Linked DNA regions of Homo sapiens. The protein of the gene in region 1 interacts with the protein of each later gene in a biochemical or structural test. Each region holds a gene or a part of one and is shown in the gene's direction. Other genes may lie near its edges.

Region 1 (3,500 bases):
TGCCAGAAAACATTTTAAGTTTTGACTTACTTAAAGCCTTTACATTACAAATGCCTTTATGTTATGTCTAAAATAGAAGATTGGTTGCAGTTATTACCAGTGCTTTTGTTCTTTAGAGTCCATAAAACAGACCTGGAACGAGTGTTAGAAGCAAATGATGGCTCAGGAATGTTAGACGAAGATGAGGAGGATTTGCAGAGGGCTCTGGCACTAAGTCGCCAAGAAATTGACATGGAAGATGAGGAAGCAGATCTCCGCAGGGCTATTCAGCTAAGTATGCAAGGTAAAGACATTCTGATGTGTGTTGTATTCATTGCTGAAGAATTGATTCCAATTATTCTTAGATTTCATGGAAGTTAATGTACTCTTAGAGGTGTTTTGACAATTACTGCAGAAGCAATAGCTATATAGTGGGCTTTCCCTTTAGATTTCTTATAATGGAAATCACTTTTTACAACCTATATTTTATTAGGAGTAGTTATATTTTTACTCCTGGTTATTTTATTTGGTTTCAACACTGTACTAACACAATAGTAAATTGTGGTTTTAATCTTTGTGGGTATCAGTTGACCCTTATCCAAATCAGCTGTTACATAAATATGTGCCATTAGACACTATGGAAGGGCCTGGACAGGGAATATAAACTGATTTTACAAAAACCCAACATTTATTGGCTATGCAACTTAAACCGTAAGCCCACTTTGGTGGGCCCAGTTTTTTAGTGATATAAACTATCAATAGAGAAAAGCGAAAACATATCCCCTAGACAATCTAGGCAAAGAAAAATGTTAAGACATAGCTCAAAGTAGCTTAATTAAAAGTTTGAAGTGGGTTTTTTGTTTTATTTTTTTCTAACTCATATGTATTTGCTTCTACTTTCTAATGAAATTATTTATCAGTTGATTTCCTTAGATATCTAAATAAAATTGAAATTTCATTAATGGGAAGATTATTTTTATCCTGAACTTTTCTTGCCTCTATGCATGCCTCTGAGTACTCCATATGGTGTGCAATCCCATTTTTGATTAATAGAGTCCTGCTGGATTAGCAGGGACAGAAATCAGCTTTAGATTTCTTTCTTTTTTTTTTTTCTTTCTTTTTTTTTTTTTTTTTTTTTGAGTCAGAGTCTCACTGTCGCCCAGCCTGGAGTGCAGTGATCTTGGCTCACTGCAACCCCTGCCTCCGAGGTTCAAGCGATTCTCCTGCCTCAGCCTCCTGAGTAGCTGGGACTACAGGCGCCTACCACCACGCCCAGCTAATTTTTTGTACTTTTAGTAGAGATAGGGTTTTGCCCTTTTGGCCAGGCTGGTCTTGAACTCCTGACCTCAGGTGATCCACCTGCCTTGGCCTCCCAAAGTGCTGGGATTACATGTGTGAGCCACCACGCCCAGCCAGAAGAGTAGAATATTCTTAAAGAGAAAACGTTTTAAAGGCTTACTCAAATGAGTATAAACAAACATATTGTTGCTTGAATTGGTAAATACAGTGATTGGTTTTTGTTGTGTTGTGTTTTGTTTTCAGGTAGTTCCAGAAACATATCTCAAGATATGACACAGACATCAGGTACAAATCTTACTTCAGAAGAGCTTCGGAAGAGACGAGAAGCCTACTTTGAAAAGTAAAGTAGTTGGTACAAGTTAAAGTAGCATGTTTAATATTTGCTTTGGCTATTTTGTCTATTTGTAAATGGTTACTGCCTGAATCCTGTGAATATTTGAATGTATTTTTTAAAAATTTACAGCAAATAGGACGGGCACGGTGGCTTACGCCTGTGATGCTAGCAGTTTGGGAGGCCAAGGCGGGCAGATTGCCTGAGGTCAGGAGTTCGAGACCAGCCTGGGCAACACAGTGAAACCCCATCTCTACTAAAAATACAAAAGAATCAGCTGGGCATGGAAGCGTGCGCCTGTAGTCCCAGCTGCTTGGGAGGCTGAGCCAGGAGAATTGCTTGAACCCGGGACGTGGAGGTTGCAGTGAGCCGAGATCGCACCACTGCCCTCCAGACTGGGTGACAGAGTGAGACTCCGTCTCCAAAAATATATGTATATATATATAAATAAAAATAAAAATTTACGGCAAATAACATGAAACAAAAAAACCTTGCCCCAATACTGGATAAATTTTTTAAACTGAGTGAAGGAAACCTTATAAAATTTCATTTATTAAAAGAAAAATGAAATTAGGACAAGACAAGAAGAATGCCAATTGATCCTTTGGATGTACTTCTTGCTTACCTGATTAACCCTGCAAAATTCCTCTACCAATCAGTACGAAAAACAGCTTTGGAGGTATGGGAGCGCATTCCCAAATAGACGTGGTAGTTCATTTAGCTGCTCATGGCCGCTTCAGGCAGTCCTGTAAGCCTGTTAGCATCAGGGGAATGGATGCAAACCATAAATCTGGATCAACTCCTAAAACCTTACCTTGTGCCCAGCCTTGTAAGTGCTTGCTAAATAGGAATTCCACCATATGAAAATACATTCTTTTCAAGTAACTATCATTCAGACTTTTGTCCCCCACTTTTTTTTTTTAAAGAAAAATAAAAGGCTGGGCACGGTGGCTTACGTCTGTAATCCCACCATTTTAGGAGGCCAAGGCAGGTGGATCACCTGAGGTCAGGAATTCAAGACCAGCCTGACCAACATGGTGAAACCTCATCTCTACTAAAAATACAAAAATTAGCCGGGCATGGTGGTGGGTGCCTGTAATCCCAGCTACTTGGGAGGCTCAGACAGGAGAATCGCTTGAATCTGGGAGGCAGAAGTTGCAGTGAGCTGAGATAACGCCATTGCACTCCAGCCTGGGGGACAAGAGCGAGACTTCGTCTCAAAAAAAAAGAGAAAGAAAACTTCATGTTAAAGATTACAAGATAAATAATCAGACCCACTGATCCTAGGTCAGAAAACAGAGTCATAGCTCAATCTGACTTACTATTTGCTGTATTTCATCCATTCTGAGATGCACATAGTTTCACATTTCAATGTCTCTGAAATTGAGAAGCATCTTACAGTCATAATTGACAGTATATTAGCAGCACCTATAAATATTGGCTCATTTTACATTTGATGGTATAATGAAGAAAATATTTACCTTTTTTTCTGTTTTGTTTTTAAGTCACAACTCAGAAGTAGATGAAGGAAAATTCTGATCAGCTGACATCCTCTTAATGTGAGATATTTCTAGTCTTTATTCAGTATAGATTAATGGCTAATTATATGTTAAATTTCAAAGTAGTGCTTATTAGTGCTTTTTACTTTTAAGTTTCAAAATTAACTTTTTTATTATAATAAACTCCAAATTTATACAAAAGTAGAAAAACTAGCATACTCCTGTTTATGACCCAGATTCAACAAATACTAGCACACGGCCAATCTTGCTTTTTTTTTTTTTTTTTTTTGAGATGGAGTCTTGCTCTGTTGCCCAGGCTGGAGTGCAATGGCACAATTTCTGCTCACTGCAACCTCTGCCTCCTGAGTTCAAGCGATTCTCCCACTTCAGCC
Region 2 (3,006 bases), about 68 Mb from region 1:
TACAGGCATGCACCACTGTACTCAGCTAATTTTTGTTGTTGTTGTTGTTGTTGTTGTTGTTTTGGTTGAGACAGGGTTTCGCTGTGTTGTCCAGGCTGGTCTGGAACTCCTAGGCTCAAGTGATCCTCCCGCCTCAGTCTCCCAAGGTGTTGGGATTGCAGGTGTGAGCCACCATGCCCAGCCAATTCTAGCATTTTTTAAAAAACTGCTGAGATGATTTCTGGTGTCCTTGAGAATTCTTCAAATTATCTGAATATTAATTTCTAGCATTGATATTTAGAACAAGGTCCTTCTGACTTTTTTTAAGATATCTTTCAGGCTGGGTGCAGTGGCTTACCCCTGTAATCCCAGCACTTTGGGAGGCTGAGGCGGGTGGATCACCTGAGGTTGGGAGTTTGAGACCAGCCTGATCAACATGGAGAAATCCTGTCTCTACTAAAAATACAAAATTAGCCAGGCCTGGTAGCGCATGCCTGTAATCCCAGCTACGTGGGAGGCTGAGGCAGGAGAATTGGTTGAACCTGGGAGGCAGAAGTTGCAGTGAGCCGAGATTGTGCCATTGCACTCCAGCCTGGTCAACAAGAGCGAAACTCCATCTCAAAAATAAATAAATAAATCCTTTCATTGCCGTATCATCTAAAATAATGCCAATATTCTCACTGATTTTGGGGGACTGATGTTGGAAGATGACTCATGGAATTAAGAGGATCAGATGGTTCAAAGAATCTTGCCCTATCAAAGTTGTTTACAGCCTAAAAATATTTGATAAATGAAGGTATGTTCAAAGCCTTCTCATTCTCCAAAGCAGTGCTGCTGAGAATATGCATCTTTTAGAAGGCAGTAGATCCCAAAGACCAACATAGGATGTTTTACCTAGAAGACAAATTGTACATTGGGCTTTAAGGACTCATGAAACCATTGCCTGTTTCAGACGCTGACCGGAAAGGAGATTGAGATTGACATTGAACCTACAGACAAGGTGATGCATGCCCAACTCCTCTTCATGTACTTCTTGCCATGTGTATTTGTTTGCATATGCTTATGAACTTGGTCCTTTTGCTCTCATGCTGTCTGCATAGCCCTTGTTCTTTCCGTTTCCATGGTCCTACCCCTAAGCAGCAGCCCCTGACTACTTGTCTCTCTAAAGGTGGAGCGAATCAAGGAGCGTGTGGAGGAGAAAGAGGGAATCCCCCCACAACAGCAGAGGCTCATCTACAGTGGCAAGCAGATGTGAGTTTGGAGTGAGAATGACAGCATGGCGATCTTATGTGAAGATGAGAAGAGGAGAGGGGGCACGTACTGAGGTGGATCAGGGGTGCCTCTTGTTTTTGGTGCCTAAGACTCTTTGGCAATCTGGTGAAGCCTCTAAGCCCCTTCTCAGAATAAGATTTTTTCAGGCATAAAACAAAATATATAGAATTAAAGGAAAACTAATTATATTGAAATAGTTATTAAAATACTAAAACAAATTTGTGATATAGTAATATATGTACTTTTTTATTAATGCATAAGATCTAATGGTAGGTCTAATATGACCATAATTTTGAAATATTTTCAAGATACCTATAAATGATCATGATAGAAAATAGTTAATTGCTATTGTTAACAAGTTACCTATATTGCTAATACTACTGTGGTTTTTGGGCTATGTTTAAAGTTAGAAGAAATGTTAAATTTCAGTTGGGGGTTAGTAAAAATAAAGATGGGATTTTTTTTCTCATTCAAGTTCACAGACCCCCAAAGAGATCCAGGAAACTCAAGAACTCCTGTTCTGGCCGGGCGCAGTGGCTCACGCCTGTAATCCCAGCACTTTGGGAGGCTGAAGGGGGTGGATCACCTGAGGTCAGGAGTTCGAGACCAGCCTGGCCAACATGGTGAAACCCCATCTTTACTAAAAATACAAAAATTAGCTGGGCGTGGTGGTGGGCGCTTGTAATCCCAGCTACTCAGGAGGCTGAAGCAGGAGAATTGCTTGAACCCAGGAGGTGGAAGTTGCAGTGAGCTGAGATCGTGCCACTGTACTCCAGCCTAGATGACAGAGCGAGACTCTGTCAAAAACAACAACAACAACAACAACAACAACAACAAAAAACTCCTAAGTCTTCTTTTTCTTTTTTTTCTGGCTTCCTTTTCCTGCAGGAATGATGAGAAGACAGCAGCTGATTACAAGATTTTAGGTGGTTCAGTCCTTCACCTGGTGTTGGCTCTGAGAGGAGGAGGTGGTCTTAGGCAGTGATGGACCCTCCATTTTACCTCTTTACCCTGTCGCTCATAATGAGGCATCATATATCCTCTCACTCTCTGGGACACCATAGCCACTGCCCCCTCCCCTGGATGCCCAGTAATGTATGTCTACTGGTGGGAGACTGTGAGGATCCCAGGATTCAGTATTCCTGGCCCAGAGGGCCCTTGCTGGCTACTGGGTGTTAGTTTGCAGTCCTGTGTGCTTCCCTCTCTTATGACTGTGTCCCTGGTTGTCAATAAAATATTTCCTGGCCTCCTGGAATCTTTCTTCTGTTGCACAAGTTGACTGAAATAAAAATGGACCTAATGCTCACTCAGTTATAGCAGGCTGAAGGAATCGGACAGTGGAAGGAATGGTGCTCTTACGGGGATTATCAGACTCTAGGAAAACCTACTTAGTGGTGTGTTGGAACCAGTTCCTAGTGGCTAATGAGAGCCAATTATTGGCACCTTTTTCCAACTCTATTAAGTGACTTCATGTTGGTAGCTTGAAATTGGCCATGGTAGGATTATTTACAGAAACTAGCAAACACTACAGATCAGTTCCTCCCCACAAACTGGTTGTTATACATCTACCAGTGTAGTGCTGACATGGATGGTGAAACCTTCGGAGAGTGAATTCTCTCTTGACTGTGGCTGTACTGGACATTTAGGCCTGGTTGGAGAACGCCTTCAAGGGTTTGGCTGACACTGTACTCTATGGCTGGAATATTACTGAGGACTTTGGGTTCTACACTGTCAGGAGGTTGATAATGCAGAAAG
Region 3 (3,500 bases), on another chromosome or scaffold:
AGGAGGCATGTGGGTTAGATATTGCAGCACATCAACTTAATCAAAATTTAGAGGACAAGAATAGTAACAACTCATAGAATAAGTCACAACCTGAACATAAACCTGGGTCTGTGTGACTAGTTATACTCCCTGAGCTATAACCACATTCCTACCTTTTGGCCCAGAAGTCCCATTTCTGAAATTTTATCCTGATTAAATAATTGAAAAGTGAAAAACAATCTTGGAGCTGACCAAAACTTTGATCACTTTGACTCATGCTAGCCCACCTAGATGATCACACCCCTCAGCTAGACCACTAGACCACTAGTAATGCTATGAGGCTGCACCAACATCCACAGACAAAATTTTAAAGGCAAATCTTTAGGATGTATCTTTTTAAAAAAATCGCTTAATATTGCCTGTCCTTAATGTCGCCTGAGGGAATATTAAGATCAGTGGGTCAGGAAAAGAGTCACGGCATTCCAGCACTTTGGGAGGCCAAGGCGGGTGGATCACTTAAGGCCAGGAGTTTGAGACCAGCCTGGCCAACATGGTGAAACCCCATCTCTACTAAAAATACAAAAAAATTAGCCGGGCGTGGTGGCGTACGCCTGTAATCCCAGCTACTCCAGAGGCAGAGGCAGGAGAATCACTTGAACCCAGGAAGCGGAGGTTCCAGTGAGCTGAGATTGCACCACTGCACTCCAGCCTGGGTGACAGAGTGAGACTCTGTCTCAAAAAATAATAAATAAATAAATAAATAAATAAATAAATAAATAAATAAATAAAAGAGTCGTGACATTAATTATGGCAAAAGTCAGTATTCACTGAACAACAGAGGTAGAAAGCTAAAATGACAAAAGGGCTTTGTATGTTTTCTGAGACAGGGAAGACAGTTGCACTTCCATTTAATCTGACAGAGATAAATAAGTGACAATCCCAGGCCTCCAGGAGCTTGCAGATGTGGCAGACTGTAATAAAAATGTGGACGGGCTCTGGAAGGTGAAGGGCATTATGCACAGCAGAGGTGAAGACTTTGTACTGGGGAGGAGAACAAGGAGGATAGGGATGGTTCCTTCACATTTGTCCAGTCCACATTCCACTAGAAGCACAAAGCCCTGGCACGGCACACTTGGACCATTGTCAAGTGTCTGTCAGAGAAAAACTCCCCAGCCTTGACCTTAACTAGGGCTATAAGCACTGGCCATTAACTGTGTCCATGGCTGCAGAGATAGTTATAACAATTTACAAGATACCTTACCTTACCAGAAGATGAAGATGAAGAAGAAGAAGAAGGCGGAGAAGGAGAAAAAGAAGGAGAAGGAGAAGTGGGAGGAGAAGCAGTAGAAGTGGAAGAGGTAGAAAATGTTCAAACAGAGTTTCCAGGAGAAGATGAAAACCCAGAAAAAGCTTCAGAGCTCTCTCAGGTGGAGCTGCAGGCTGCCCCTGGGGCACTTCCAGTTTCCTCTCCAGAGCCACCTCCAGCCCTGCCACCTGCTGCGGATGCCCCTGTGACACAGGTAACCCCTCCTGAGTCTCTTTCTACAGGGCACATGGGCGTGTCTCCTTATGGAATAGCCTAAACAATTTACCCTATTCTGCCTTAAGAAAAAGATAACTATATGCCAGACATTCGTATATGGTAGACGAAAGATTTCAGGACAGTCCTCATGTCGGGGAGAAAAGTCCTCTAGGTGATTCAACAGGTTCTTTGTTGTTATTGTTAGTTAACAAAATTTAATACAACTTTCCCACCAGTAATGCCCTCAAATCAAAGGCAATCTTTGTCTGGAAATTGTGTGTGTGTGTGTGTGTGTGTGTGTGTGTGTGTGTGTGTGTCCATGTCTGTGTGTCATGTTAATTCATAGAGAGCTGATATCATGGGGACTGGGTCTGCTCTTTGTTACTTAGTGAATGTATATGTAGGGTATAGGATGAGAAATAAATAGCATACAGAGTAAGAAATAAAAGTGATTATACTTTCAGAACTTTGAATTTTCTGTAGATAATTGAGGGGGTAAATAGAGAAACTACACTAGTTTATGTTCCTGTTGCTTACCCTGAAATACAACTTATGTATTTTTCCTTCAGTGAGCAAACAATGAAGCCTGGTTTTCTATGGATTTGTCATTTGATGAGATTGTGTGTTGACAGAATTGTTTAAAACATATCTTAAGAAATAAGCTCACCCCAGATGCTGCACCTAATTGGTTGACCTCATGTTTCTAATACGTCACCGTCCAGTTTTCAAGCCTTTGTGCAGACTCCATGATACTTCAGCAGACAGGATCCCAACCTTTTGAGTTTGCAGGCAGTGCAGACTCATCAGAGAGGAGTCCTGCTTCTGCAACTGCTTTTGAAGTGGATTGAAACAAAACTCCAGAGGGGGATCTCAGAGATGGAACTGTATTTCTATGCTCTGTCTCCACAGGAAACCAGGCTAAAATGCCATTTATAGTCTAGAATTTTTAAATTCTGAGCATTTCAGTTGTATTAAAATTGAAAGAGGTATAGTAACTAAGTGAGGGTTGGATTTGATCAATAAGATTAATTTTTGTTTTTTATAATGAGGTTTTTGGGACTCACGTATAAAGCCAACAAATTATTCTAGTCAATAGTTTGACCCTTTTCCCATATCTGATATTTTATAACCAACATTCACTGAGGTTTCTGCTCTCTGCCTGCCTGGGCTCCCAGTGAGTGAAAGACAAGCTCAGAAAAGAAGAGGGCACCCATCCAGATGCTGGACAGAGGGGCACTGTAGTCACCATTCTGCCCTTAGCGCTTCTGGAGGGTGGGATGAACTAAAACGGCCACCAAGGCACTGCATGCAGGGAGCGCACAGTGTTCAAACCCAAAGGGAACTAAAATCAACTGCTTTTTCTTCTTCTTCTTCTTTTTTTTTTTCTTTACTTTTGAATTTATCTGTCCTGATTAAGGGGGAGGTTGTACCCACTGGCTCTGAGCAGACCACAGAGTCTGAAACTCCAGTCCCTGCAGCAGCAGAAACTGCGGATCCCTTGTTTTACCCTAGTTGGTATAAAGGCCAAACCCGGAAAGCCACCACCAACCCACCTTGCACCCCAGGGAGCGAAGGTCTGGGGCAAATAGGGCCTCCAGGTTCTGAGGATTCGAATGTACGGAAGGCAGAAGTGGCAGCAGCCGCAGCGAGTGAGAGGGCAGCTGTGAGTGGTAAGGAAACTAGTGCACCTGCAGCTACTTCTCAGGTTAGTGATGATGCACTTGTGTCTATGCTTTCCCGCGCCCCCTAGGGTCCCACTGGAACAGGCCACAGCAAGAAGAAAAAGGGTTTTCAAAGGGGCAGAGAGAAACCTCAGCCAGGGGAAAAGTACAGAAACAATTCATCCCCCAATGTTGGCTTGTTTTGAGCTCTATATAAAAGAAAACATAAAACAAAACAAATTTGAGTTCACTCTCCTGGTGCATGGTGACCTCACACCTGGCTTCCCAGGGGAGGGGTGCAAGTGAGCCTGGCCCTTAGGCATGCTACTGAGCGCTGC
Region 4 (3,500 bases), on another chromosome or scaffold:
TTTACAGTTTTCTTTCCTTTTCTCCAAATTGAACTGATTGTCATTTTTATTAAATTAGTATTTGGAGAACTTTTAAGATAATAGTTCATTTTTTAATGATAGGTTATTTAGAATCTGAAGCACTCTAAGCCACAGCATGTGAAATAATAGGTTAAATTGGTTTTGTTTTGTTTTTTTACTCATTTGTTGCTTATTGCTGTTATATTTTCTCCTCTCACCCACCCCCAACACACACACACGTTTTAAACTTTTATGTGTAGGGCAAAGCAGTTTGTGGGTACAAGGCCTTCTATGTTCCTGTTACGCTTAAAGACTATAGAAAGGTGAGACGGTAACAACAGTATTTAATAAGAAAGTTATTAAGAGATTAATGTCAGCGATATCTGTACATAGTCTTGCATGTGCCTCATGATTATTAGATTTTATTTACATTTAAATATAATGATTTATTATTAAAAACTAGAGAATGACTATATTCTGTGTACTTCCTTCATCTTCCTCTAACCCTCACCATTCCCCTTACATTCTAGTTGTCTGCTACTAGTGTTTCTTGTACACTTAGTATAAGACTAATCATTCCATTTAAAGCACTAATAAACTATGTTTTTACTGTAATAGTTGTATAATATTTAACCAAGATGATAATACAGAAATCAAGATTTCCATGAAATACGATAAAATTCAAAAAACATTTACTAGGTACCTAGTATGTGCTACTTTTACTGTGCTAAGTGATAAGTTACAAAGATGAAGAGGAAATTTGCCTTGGCATTGAGACGATCTGGCATTAGAGAGATCTAAGCTCCAAAGAAACCTTAAAAAGTGTTTTAGGCCAGGTGCAGTGGCTCACGCCTGTAATCCTACTACTTTGGGAGGCCGAGAAGGGTGGAGCACTTGAGGCCAGGAGTTCAAGAGCAGCCTAGGCAAAATGGCTAAACCCTGTTTACTAAAAATAGAAAAATTAGCTGGGCGTGGTGGCGCATGCCTGTAGTCCCAGCTACTTGGGAGGTTGATGCACAAGACTTGCTTAAACCCAGAGGCTGAAGTTGCAGTAAGCTGATATCACGCCACTGCACTCCAACCTGGGTAATAGAGCAAGACTCTGTCTCAAAAAAGAAAAAAGAAAAGTATTTTAAATACCCATCTACACGTTTTATTATTATTAAAACGGGTAAATTTTATTCCGTAGTGGACATGGTTCTATGGGCTTTACTTTGTTAATTCTACTACTATTAAATATTTTACTTTAGGTGTTTGGGACTTTAGTCATAATTCTTCTATTCCAATTTCCTTTTACACAGTCAGGAGTGGTTCCATAAACTGAAGGTATTTAAATCCAGTATGTCATTAGATTGTAGTGGATTAAAGATAATTTCTGATATTGAGATCACAGGACTTTCAGTAAATTCCACTTTATTTGCATGCCTTTGTAATATATTTACATTGTTCAAACTTTTCAGTTTGTATCCCATTCCTAAAACAATTTCGTAAGACTTCTTTTGTATAGTTTCTTTTCCAAGAACTGTATCTCCCTGATCATTTGTCAGGGAGATAAATGATTTAAGCAAATAGAATTGAGTATTTCTTTTTTCTAAATATGTATTTTTTGAAGACTTTTCTGATGATTCTTGGGTTCTAATCAACATATACATAAAATGAGTTTGTGAAAGTATCTGCTCTAGTAGTACCAATTCCATATGAACATAGATTTAACTTTGTAGAATCATCCCTTCCTTGAAGTAGTCAGGCATCTAATTTCATAATATTCATTTTTTAGGAATTTTCTCAAATTGTGTCCACAGATTGACTTGGAATACCTAAATGTCTTGACTGTCTTATGCTCTAATGTTTCTTTTTGTTAAATGAAATTACTAATATTAACACATAAGAGCATTGTGAGGCTCAACTAGACTGATAGTTACATATATGAGTTTTAGAAGTGCCAAATGGACTAACTGTTTTCCTTCCTGCTATCACAGAGTCCTACTCACGATTGCTTTCTGGTTAGACTTTCCTTAAATGATGTCATACCAAATTCACTTATTTTCATTAGCCTCAGGTAGAGGAGAGGATTCCCTTAATCTCTCATTTTCATTAGCTTAGCTAAGCAGATTTAAGTCTGAAAATAAATCCTGCATATACACTATACAATATTTAATGATAGGAAAATAATCAAGTTATTGGAATGATTCCGAAAGGCATAAAGGAGACTAAAGGATAAGGATATCTATCATAGTATCTATAAACTTTAATATAGCTTTAATATAAATTTGATGTTTCCAAGTCTTTGTAGAGGGTAACATTTTCTTTTGTCTAGGCAGTATGCAACAAATTTCAGGAAAAGTCTCTTCCATAATATATCTTCAGTGTTGTTGGCATCACTTTATCTGCGGTAGCTCCCTTGCGGAGCTGCCATATATTTCTCATATATTGTTCTAGTCAGGGCATATGTTCAGCAGAAAGGCCAATTATAGTAGAAATGCCAATATATATTTTTCCCATTTTTTCTCTTAAATATTGTTTAGAAACTGAATCTTCTGGTCTATCTTTGATGGTATTCTATTACAGTAAAAACAGTTCTTTGTGGAGGTTTGTACATTGCTATACTTCTCCCAACAAATCTAGTTTAGTAGACTTTTCTGTTTTGTTTTGAGACGAAGTCTGGTTCTGTCACGCAGGCTGGAGTGCAGTGGCGCAATCTCGGCTCATTGCAAGCTCCGCCTCCCAGTCTCACGCCATTCTCCTGCCTCAGCCTCCTGAGTTAGCTGGGACTACAGGCGCCCGCCAACACGCCCGGCTAATTTTTTTTTTTTTTTTTTTTGTATTTTTAGCAGACAGGGTTTCACCGTGTTAGCCAGGATGGTCTCGATCTCCTGGCCTCGTGATCCACCCGCCTCGGCCTCCCAAAGTGCTGGGATTACAGGCGTGAGCCACCGCGCCTGGCCCTTTGTTTTATTATTTATTTATTTTTTGAGATGGAGTCTCACTCTGTCACCCAAGCTGGAGTGCAGTGGCACCATCTCGGCTCACTGCAACCTCCACCTTCTGGGTTCAAGCAATTCTCCTGCTTCAGCCTTCCAAGTACCTGAGATTACAGATGCCCACCACTGCGCCCGGCTATGTTTAAATTATTATGTGAATTTGACTTTTCTCATCAGTCCTTTTTCATTCCCTTTATAATTTATTTAATTTTTTGTTTGTTTGTTTTGAGACGAGAGTCTCGCTCTGTTGTCAGGCTGGAGTGCAATGTCACAATCTTGGCTCACTGCAACCTCTGCCTCCCGGGTTCAATCAATTCTCCTGCCTCAGCCTCCCAAGTAGCTGGGATTACAGGCACGCACCACCATGCCCAGCTAATTTTTTTGTATTTTTAGTAGAGACTGGGTTTCACCATGTTGGCCAGGCTAGAACCTAACACAGACCACACTCAAACACGCTTATTATTCCTTTTTTAAATTTAGGTGTTAAGCATACACATTTCCTGGAATACATTTATAGTT
Region 5 (3,500 bases), on another chromosome or scaffold:
CTTATAAAATTTTGTATTTTAAAGAGTATCTGCTTTATGAACATTATGCAATTTGGAGAAAAGTTATGAAATAAGATTATTTCACCTTCTCCAGTTAGCTACTTCCATGATGTTATGGACCGTATAGTTGTTACAACTTCTTTTTGTGTACTGAACAGACAAATGAGATTAATATCCTAACCATTAGTCAAAGATGATGATAAACTAAGCTTTTGGTGCCAAGTTTCTGTTGTCAAAGTTCATTTTTATCCTAGTTTTGATGTTTTAAAATAGGGCTGTCTTTGTAATCAATATTTATATACTTTCCTCTTGTATCTAAAGAGGAGTGTTGTTGTCATCAGATGTAGAATGAAGATTTAAATTAGTTGCCTTACACTTGTTTCCGCAATGAAACATTTTATTTTAATGCATCTTTTTAGATATTTGTTGGAACTGACTTTTAAGTTACAAAGTCTATAACTTATTGAGATTTATATTTGGCATGAAGAACCTGACTATAAATGGTCCAGACAGGCAAGACGATGTAATTTGAGAAAAAACTTAGAAATGTTAAGAAACAACCCAGTTGTTGGCCTTGTGACCATAGATGATTGAGTTTTTGAAGTTAGTTGGCCTATCATCTAGTTTCCAGGCAGCATGATTACTGAAAGATTATAAGCAGGCAATCATTCGTTGTTTTAAAGCCCTCCTTAGGTCAGTGAGATCTTGTGGAGGAGACTCATACCTTACTTTGGCAAGTGATACGGTGGAAGTATGGTGCTAGTTACATTTATCAGTGGCTTGTTTTCAAGCTCTGGGATGAATGTGAAGTATGTAAACAAGGCTTAGCCATATAATATTTGTTCTACTACATTTACTATTCAAAACTATTTTCTTTACCATCGTATTGAGCTTTCATTTTAAAAGAATTCATTCTCTTTATGACTCTGAGAGTTATTACCTTCTTCAGCTGTCTTACGGTTTTCCTACAGGAAATAGTTCTTCAAGTAGTTGGTCAACAACTTCCTATTTCTTTATAAGCTGCTGAATAACTTCCTGACTCAGTATTCTATAATATCTCTGGTTTCAAGGAGTGTTTTACTTGCAAGTTTATTTTATTGACTCTGATGCCTTATAACTATTACCATGTTCAAAGATATGTGTTCTTATATATAATGTACCATGTAGGACCTTATAATTTGATTTAAGGAATCTGGATCAGTGATTTTAAAAGTTTGTACATTTGCATTGTTTTAATAATGTTCTAATAATTTTTAAAGCACAGTTTTGTTTCATTTCCATTGTTTATCATTTTCTGAATAACTGGCCACAATGTTTTTAGTCTGCGAAGATTCAAGGTTTTTTGTGGCTGTGATTTGATTAAGTTATATTGAGTAGCTTGGTATACAATTTAAAAAGGATATGTTTTTCAGAGATTTTTGACATTGCATGGCATAAAACTACCCATATTCCTATATTAATTTGCCTTGTAGATGTGATTGATCGCTATACATAGGCTGATTCTTTTTTCTTTCTTTCCTTTTTTTTTTTTTTTTGAGACAGAGTCTTGCTCTGTTGACCAGGCTGGAGTGCAGTGGCACGATCTCAACTCACTGCAACCTCTGCCTCCTGGGTTCGCGTGATTCTCCTGCCCCATCTCTACAAAAATACAAAAATTAGCCGGGTGTGTTGGCGCACACCTATTGTCCCAGCTAATCAGGAGACTGAGGCAGGAGAATTGCTTGAACCTGGCAGGTGGAGGCTGCAGTGAGTTGAGATTGCACCACTCCACACCAGCCTGGGCGACAGAGCCAGACTCTATCTCAAAAAAAAAAAAGACTATGAACATATACAGTGTATGTTGTTATCATATACAGTGTACCTGGTATTTATACATTGTATACAGAACATATACAGTGTATCTTCATAATAAAGATTATGCCTCTTTAAAAGGAAGTTTCATGAAGAATAAGGCTATACTGTTTCTTTCTGTATCAAGTATAACCCAGAGTTTCCCTTTAAAACTGAAAAGCTTGTAATTTTGCCATTAAATGTTAAGTTGCACACGTGCACATGTATACACAAACAAAAAACCAGTTCAAATTGCAATCACGAAGTATTTCCCTATTTGAGGGAAGGCCAGTCTCTGCTTGTTTGTCTTGCTATTGAGGCTGAGTGGAGAGAGAAGATGAAAGTACGCCCTTAGCTCTGGGGGGTGGGGGAGAGCTTACTTCTGCTCAGTGGGTGGGCATCCCAGGGAAGAATGGCACACAGTGCCACAGTGATTTAGGGAGAGAACCCTGGAGAAACTGTATTCACCAGTGGCAGAAGAAAAACAGTTGGAAGATAGTAGATGTGACAGAGTAAATAGAACATAGAGATTAACATATTCCCTGGGAAAAATAATGGAATTTTTTTAGTGTGAACTAAGAAAGAAGTTCACTAGAACTTCTTTGCATTATTTAATTAATTTGCAGCATCATTCAAAGAACAGACTGTCACTTGGTGTGTTTAAAAATTATGATTCTTAGTTCTAGAAAGAATTCTAGAACTATCTCTGGAAGTTTAAATGTAGCAGACTCAATTGACTGCAAGGTGGTAGGCTAATTTTCTTTTTAAAGTCACATTTAAAAAAAAATACCCTTTCCTAAAGCTTTATCTTAGCCATTAAAAAAAAACCCAAACATCTAGATAGCATTTAAATAGTTGAAACTTGGAAAAAAAAAAAACCCAGGTTTTTACAACCCTAAAATAAGTCCTCTTTAGTTATGTAGAGAAATATTTTACTTTGTAGTTAGAAAAATAATGTGAATTCACAGCTTAAAATACTCAGGGTATCATGACTCTGCATTGCCTTGTACCTTAAGGCTTTGAGGGGAGGTAAACTCTAAACTGTTTTATTGCCAAAATATATATAGAAATTTAAGCTTAGGACCAATCAAAGTGAAGTCATTTTAAAAATCAGTTGCTAAGATTTAAGATTATTCAAACTTAATGCTACCCTCTGTAATAGCATAATTTAGCCATTAATTGTGGCTTGAAAGTTTTTAATAATAGCTGAGTAGCATTGTATAAAGGGAGGTCTTAAAGAGCTGTGTCGTTCTATAACTGTGGTTACTAGGTGATGCACTTCTTACAAAAAGGGCTTCTGATTCTAGGATTAATCAGAACTACAAGCCATGAAAGGGACATTGCCGTTTCTATGAAGAAGAATTGCTTCATGGTTCTGGTTGCTCAAGTGCTGTAGCACCAAGTTTCCTGGGAACAAGTACTGCCACCGTGGAAGCACTTTTATTTACGTAGGGCTTGACCCCTTCTAAATGCAAACAAAGAAGTTTGGTTTAAATCACAGCAGTCCTCCCCACCTCCCCTTTAATATTCTAGACAAGGAAAATGGTCAGTATTTAATCCTCATTTTGCTCCTAGCATGAGAAGAATCATAATTTTTAAACACACCAACCAAGTGATAGTCTGTTGTTTCTTTGAATGATGTTGCAAATTAATAAAATAGTGCAAATGGC
Region 6 (3,500 bases), on another chromosome or scaffold:
ATCACTTGAGATCAGGAGTTCAAGACCAGCATAGGCAACATGGTGAAACACCATCTCCACCAAAAACAAAAAATTAGCCGGGAGTGGTGGCATGTGCCTGTAGTCCCCAGGTACTCAGGAGGCCGAGGCAGGAGAATCGCTTGAACCCATGAGAAAGAGGTTGCAGTGAGCCAAGATCATGCCACTGCACTCCAGCCTGGGCAAGAGAGTGAGGCTCCATCTCAAAAAAATAAAAAATAAAAGTAGACCAGATGCACGAGTAGGAGCTTTGTGTGAGTTCTGAGCATGTAGAGCGAGTAGAGGGCAGATGTCCATCTAGGCTCTTGGCAAGCCTGGTTCCCAGCAGGGAGTGGTAAGAGTTCAGAAATGATGTCAGGGCAGTAAGAGACTGTATTTGTACCATCATGCCTTACCTATTCAGACATCCTTCTCTTTCCTTTTCAGTCAGTGGTGCCGAAGACCAAAACGGTATGTAGTTGTTTCTGTTTGGGAATGGGCTTAGGCCCTTTTGTCCTTCCCCTCCTTCAACCCCAATCCCTTTAGTAATCTAAGAATTCTGAGCATTTGAGCCCCCAGAGAGAGGGTGTGTGGGAAACTCACTGAGACCCAGGGGGCCTCTCACCATCTTTAGAAATTCTCTCTGCTCGCTGTGCAGGAAGCAGAGTGGAGCATACGTAGGGGCGGACTGACTGATGTGCATGTCCCTGGGCTACCTGAGCTCATAAGCCAACATTTGTAAAACACTGAAACAGAGGAGGGGTGGCATGTATCACACTCAGCTCATTTTTTAAAATCTTGGTGTTTTCAGTTCTGGTCTGGGTAGGGAGGGTCTCTGTGTACACCTTCTGGGGAATCAGGGTGTTTAGCAGCTTCTGGTACTAACCAAAAAGAAAGGGTGGTGACCTGAGACAGCCCTGTTTGTACAGGGCTGGTAATGGTTAGAGCTACTCTGGAGCTAACACATGTGCTACTCTCTGGGCACAAGCTATATATCTCAGCTCAGCTGCCACTCACTTAAAGACCACCACTGGGCCCTCAGGTACTCCCAGAACACACTGCAGAACTCCTGACCATCTGTGGGGACATTCTAAAATATGCTATGTGTTTTCAAAAGCCTCAAGGGTATATGGTTGTGAACTCCCTTCCAAGAGAGAACGTTCTAAGAGTAGTGTTGGACTAGCCTGCAGCATTTTAAAACTTATTTCAGAAGATTTCCCAAATTTATTTAGTAAAATGGCCTTTTGCTCAGAATGGGCAATTTTATGTCTGATTACTTCTAATCAGACATAAAAAACAGTTGAGCTTTTCTCAATTCCCCAAAACCATTTGGAGTTCTAGACCCACCTCCACCCTCCAACCCCCCAGCATCACCGGTACCAAGATCAGGCTGATCTACTTGGTGCTTCCTTTCTTTTTCTGATTCCCTGGGAGAATGCTGACAACTGAGTTAATGTGTTTGTTGTTACTTCTGAGAGAATGAGTAACTGAAAATTATAAATTATTCCCATTCATCTTAGGTATTTGTATAGTCTCCAAACCTCTGTTAGGACCAACAGCACCTCAAAAGAGGCAAATGGGTTTCACTCCCTTTCACACCCAGCCTACCTCCTAGGGGGAAGTATTTCTTGACTTTTTAATAGTCCAGAAAAGAGAAAGTATAGATGCAATAAGGGAGAATTCCTCTATGGGTTGGCCAACCCCCAGATGGTAGAGGTGACTTCTGTGAGATCAGTTCCTTTTTATGGGTACCTACTTCAGGCTACAATTTAAGACATATTGGAGATGGCTGGGCTTTTGAACATTATTTTTTCTGTTTGGGTCAGCTCTACTAGGATACTGGTCATGCCCACTATATTCTGCTAGTGACACAAGCCAGTTAGCATTTATTGAGAACCCTGTGCACTCAGCAGTTGATACTGTCTGGATAGTTTCTACTCTTAGGGCAGTTAGGCAGAAGGCCATTCTAGAGCAGGAGCTGTGGGGCCAGCCTGCCTGGGTTTGAATCCTGGCTCCTCGACTTAGCAGCTTTGTGCCCTTGGGCAAGCCACTTAACTTTTTTGCCCCAGTTGGCCTCATCTATAAAATGAAAATAACAAGAGGTCCTACTTTATAGTTTTTGTGAGGCTTCAGTGAGTTAACACATGCAAAGCTTTCAGGACCCTGCCTGGCACACGGTAAGCATTCAGTAAATGTGGGATGTTGTCATTCCCTTGGGAAGATGTTCATTCATCAGACATTTAGAGTACCTACCATATAACTGGCATTGGGGGCTTCAAAGATGAATATCTAACCTTGGAGCATGGAATAAATGCTAAGCATATAATTGTAAAAATTGATTGAATATGTTGAATTAAAGAGCTCATAGTCTACTCTGGGAGTAAGTAGGCAAACTCAAAATTTTAATCCAATGTGATAAGCAGTCATGGGGGTATAAAAAAGTTTTGTGGGGGTAGAAAGAGGGAGCAGTAATCTCTGCCAAGTTTCTCCACCAGGAAGTTTCCTCAGGAAACCTGGGAGTAGTTTGTGAGATAGCAGAGGGGTCCCCCATGATCCCTGACTTTATTAAATGGAGGATATGTTTATAGATAAAGCCTTGTGATCCTTAATGAACCATTCATCACAGTTCCATTTCTATCTAAACTTTTCTGAACCAGTTTTATCTTTTTAGCCTGTTCTGCCTCAGGGGATAATGAGTCCCTACGTGCCACTCACACACTCACTATATTACAGCCCCAACAGTCTGAAAATTATTTCTTTTAAGCTTTGAGAACTTTGCCTTAGTTCTCATGTTCTGGGATGTGTCTGATCCACAAGTGCTGTGTACTTTTCAAATCTTTACCTGTTGGAGGGGATGAAGTGTGGATTAAACAAGTAACCAGAGTTGGTTATTGAGGAAATGTTTCCTCGGAGGAGCTCTATTTGAGGGAAGCATGTGCACTGAGACTTTGTTTACAATGTACCTGTTATCTCCCACCTCCCTCCCCCAGTCACCCCTATACACTTAAGACATTCTCCTCACTCCTCTGCCCCTTTTTTTCTGCCCTGTGTGTTTGTACAGGGGGAGCAGTACCATCAGGCTTGGAGGAGAACCTGTGTAAGATCTGCATGGACTCACCCATTGACTGTGTTCTTCTGGAGTGTGGCCACATGGTAACCTGTACCAAGTGTGGCAAGCGCATGAATGAATGTCCCATCTGCCGGCAGTATGTAATCCGAGCTGTGCATGTCTTCCGGTCCTGAGAGCTTGCATCGGTTTCTTCAGTGCCTTACAGGGAAATAGCCTGGGGTGTCTGGGCTCAGGGTTGGCCAGCTTGCAGAGGAGCAAGCTAGTAGAAATATTGCAGGGTTCCCAAAACCAGGTCAAGCAAGATGCCATGTCACCCCTGAGCATGCCTGTCTTCCCAGGGGTGTACCTCTTGGCTGGCAAAGCCCAAGGCCAGTGGGAACTTGTATAAATCACATGGGTATGTTCTTGGTTCAGTGATCTTGGAGTGATGATG
Region 7 (2,641 bases), on another chromosome or scaffold:
AGTGGCGTGATCTCAGCTCACCGTAACCTCCGCCTCCTGGGTTCAAGAGATTCTCCTGCCTCAGCCCCCAGAGTAGCTGGGATTACAGGCATGTGCCACCACGCCCTGCTAATTTTATATTTTTAGTAGAGATGGGATTTCTCCATGTTGGTCAGGCTGCTCTCAAACTCCTGACCTCAAGTGATCTGCCTGCCTCAGCCTCCCAAAGTACTGGGATTGCAGGCATGAGGCACCGTGCCCAGCCCCATTCACTCTGTTCCTGCTTCTGTTTCTGAGACTTCCCAGATGCATCCACCCTGGGCCTTTGCACTTGCTGTTTGCTTTACCTGGAGGAAACCCTCTGCATCCGCCATACTGCAGGCCTCTCCACCAGCCCTCATCTGCAGTTCCTTCCTAGCCAGACACTTGCAGTTGTCTGGTTCATTTATTGGCTCACTCACTTATTTTTTGAGAGTCTCTTGCCCAGGCTGGAGTGCAGTGGCACAGTCTCGGCTCCCTGCAACCTCTGCCTCCTGTGTTCAAGTGATTCTCCTACCTTAGCCTTCTTGAGTAGATGGGATTACAGGCACGTGCCATCACACCCAGCTAATTTTTGTATTTTAGTAGAGACGGAGTTTCACCATATTGGCCAGGCTGGTCTCGAACTCCAGGCTGGTCTAGAATCACCTGAAGTGATTATAGGTGTGAACCACTGCAGCCAGCCTATTTATGTATTTATTTATTCAAGACAGGGTCTTGCTCTGTTGCCCAGGCTGGAGTTCAGTGGCTTACTGCAGCCTCCGCCTCCTGGGTTCAGTCTTATGCCTCAGCCTGCCAAGTAGCTGGGATTACAGGCGTCTGCCACCACACCTGGCTACTTTTTGTATTCTTAGTAGAGATGGGGGTTCACCATGTTGGCCAGGCTGGACTCGAACTCCTGACCTCAAGTGATCCACCTGCCTCTGCCTCCCAAAGTGCTGGGATTACAGGTGTGAGCCACCGTGCCCGGCTTATTTCTTGGCTCACTTAAAAGCACATCATCAGCTCTTCCAGGGTAGGGCTTGTGTCGACTGCTATGTTGTGTTTGGCCAGAACAGGCTCCTCTGGATATTTGCCTGACTGAATGAAAAAGCAAGGGCTGTGATGACCTGGGGAGAGGAGGGGACCAGGGCTGTGAATTACCTTCCCTTCCCCACCCTCTCCTGCAGCAAATCAGCCGGCACCAGGAGCAGTTCATCCAGATGCTGAACGAGCCCCCTGGGGAGCTGGCGGACATCTCAGATGTGGAGGGGGAGGTGGGCGCCATAGGAGAGGAGGCCCCGCAGATGAACTACATCCAGGTGACGCCGCAGGAGAAAGAAGCTATAGAGAGGGTAAGAGGCCTGGCTGAGGGGTGACTGCAGGTGGGCAGGACCCCTACCCTCTCCTGCTCACACTTAACCTATCTTCCCACAGTTGAAGGCCCTGGGCTTCCCAGAGAGCCTGGTCATCCAGGCCTATTTCGCGTGTGAAAAAAATGAGAACTTGGCTGCCAACTTCCTCCTGAGTCAGAACTTTGATGACGAGTGATGCCAGGAAGCCAGGCCACCGAAGCCCCCACCCTACCCTTATTCCATGAAAGTTTTATAAAAGAAAAAATATATATATATTCATGTTTATTTAAGAAATGGAAAAAAAAATCAAAAATCTTAAAAAAACAAGCAAACAGTCCAGCTTCCTGTCCTCCTAAAGTGGCCCCTGTTCCCATCTCCCGGGCCAGACAGCTGTCCCCCCGTCCTCCTCCCCAGCCCAGCCTGCTCAGAGAAGCTGGCAGGACTGGGAGGCGACAGATGGGCCCCTCTTGGCCTCTGTCCCAGCTCTCTGCAGCCAGACGGAAAGGCGGCTGCTTGCCTCTCCATCCTCCGAAAAACCCCTGAGGACCCCCCCCCATCCTCTTCTAGGATGAGGGGAAGCTGGAGCCCCAACTTTGATCCTCCATTGGAGTGGCCCAAATCTTTCCATCTAGGGCAAGTCCTGAAAGGCCCAAGGCCCCCTCCCCAGTCTGGCCTTGGCCTCCAGCCTGGAGAAGGGCTAACATCAGCTCATTGTCAAGGCCACCCCCACCCCAGAACAGAACCGTGTCTCTGATAAAGGTTTTGAAGTGAATAAAGTTTTAAAAACTAGCCCTATGGTCTGTGCCTGCTGGGGCTCCCCGCGCCCACCTGTCTGGGTCTTGGGGGGCTGGCTGGGCACAGGCAGGCATGGTGACGGGTGCCTGGAAGGGGGAGAGGAGTCTGTGAGTCCCTGCAGATTGAGGCTTCCGGTGTCTCCTCCCCCAGTGTGTCATTTCCAGGCAGTGGACCCCAGCCCAACGTTACAAGGACTGCTTCTCCCCGGCCCCCACCATCATCACCACAGTCTGTTTTGGCTATACTTCCCCCCCCACCAGCCTTGTAATTGGCTAATTACTGGAGATGAATGTTGGTAAACAGAAGCCTTCTTCTCTTCTGCCATCTGCTTCTCCATTATTTGCCCATTGTACACCCCCCTTTTCCTCCCACTGAAGCCCCAGTTAGTCAGCAGGGCCTAGAGTCCCTGTCCCCTTTTGAGTACAGCCAAGTGGGGGATTCCCCAGCTCTTAAGTATTGGGGGAGGAACCAGGGGACCCAGAGAGGCACACCTT

Evidence for each region.
Region 2: the proteins of ATXN3 (region 1) and NEDD8 form a complex in vitro, tested with the Homo sapiens proteins (one study listed by BioGRID).
Region 3: of the proteins of ATXN3 (region 1) and TRIM55, one has a biochemical effect on the other in vitro, tested with the Homo sapiens proteins (one large-scale study listed by BioGRID).
Region 4: of the proteins of ATXN3 (region 1) and UBE2W, one has a biochemical effect on the other in vitro, tested with the Homo sapiens proteins (one study listed by BioGRID).
Region 5: the proteins of ATXN3 (region 1) and YAP1 form a complex in vitro, tested with the Homo sapiens proteins (one study listed by BioGRID).
Region 6: of the proteins of ATXN3 (region 1) and RFFL, one has a biochemical effect on the other in vitro, tested with the Homo sapiens proteins (one large-scale study listed by BioGRID).
Region 7: the proteins of ATXN3 (region 1) and RAD23A form a complex in vitro, tested with the Homo sapiens proteins (2 studies listed by BioGRID).

What each region holds. Positions count from the first base shown.
Region 1 is NC_000014.9:92,079,083-92,082,582, reverse strand, and holds part of ATXN3 (ataxin-3 reference isoform), read left to right. Parts: intron 1-116; coding exon 117-283; intron 284-1,521; coding exon 1,522-1,618; exon of another isoform or gene 1,619-1,630; intron 1,631-3,114; exon of another isoform or gene 3,115-3,168; intron 3,169-3,500. UniProt on the Homo sapiens protein: Deubiquitinating enzyme involved in protein homeostasis maintenance, transcription, cytoskeleton regulation, myogenesis and degradation of misfolded chaperone substrates.
Region 2 is NC_000014.9:24,216,357-24,219,362, reverse strand, and holds the end of NEDD8 (ubiquitin-like protein NEDD8), read left to right. Parts: intron 1-931; coding exon 932-979; intron 980-1,147; coding exon 1,148-1,230; intron 1,231-2,139; coding exon 2,140-2,236; 3' UTR 2,237-2,506; downstream 2,507-3,006. Other genes in the region: NEDD8-MDP1 protein, read left to right, coding at 932-979, 1,148-1,230. UniProt on the Homo sapiens protein: Ubiquitin-like protein which plays an important role in cell cycle control and embryogenesis via its conjugation to a limited number of cellular proteins, such as cullins or p53/TP53.
Region 3 is NC_000008.11:66,151,129-66,154,628, forward strand, and holds part of TRIM55 (tripartite motif-containing protein 55), read left to right. Parts: intron 1-1,248; coding exon 1,249-1,499; intron 1,500-2,918; coding exon 2,919-3,206; intron 3,207-3,500. UniProt on the Homo sapiens protein: E3 ubiquitin ligase that plays an important role in regulating cardiac development and contractility, muscle growth, metabolism, and fiber-type differentiation.
Region 4 is NC_000008.11:73,805,863-73,809,362, reverse strand, and holds part of UBE2W (ubiquitin-conjugating enzyme E2 W), read left to right. Parts: intron 1-3,500. UniProt on the Homo sapiens protein: Accepts ubiquitin from the E1 complex and catalyzes its covalent attachment to other proteins.
Region 5 is NC_000011.10:102,116,947-102,120,446, forward strand, and holds part of YAP1 (transcriptional coactivator YAP1), read left to right. Parts: intron 1-3,500. UniProt on the Homo sapiens protein: Transcriptional regulator with dual roles as a coactivator and corepressor. Critical downstream regulatory target in the Hippo signaling pathway, crucial for organ size control and tumor suppression by restricting proliferation and promoting apoptosis.
Region 6 is NC_000017.11:35,011,708-35,015,207, reverse strand, and holds part of RFFL (E3 ubiquitin-protein ligase rififylin), read left to right. Parts: intron 1-444; coding exon 445-468; intron 469-3,058; coding exon 3,059-3,240; 3' UTR 3,241-3,500.
Region 7 is NC_000019.10:12,951,502-12,954,142, forward strand, and holds the end of RAD23A (UV excision repair protein RAD23 homolog A), read left to right. Parts: intron 1-1,187; coding exon 1,188-1,352; intron 1,353-1,434; coding exon 1,435-1,548; 3' UTR 1,549-2,141; downstream 2,142-2,641. UniProt on the Homo sapiens protein: Multiubiquitin chain receptor involved in modulation of proteasomal degradation. Binds to 'Lys-48'-linked polyubiquitin chains in a length-dependent manner and with a lower affinity to 'Lys-63'-linked polyubiquitin chains.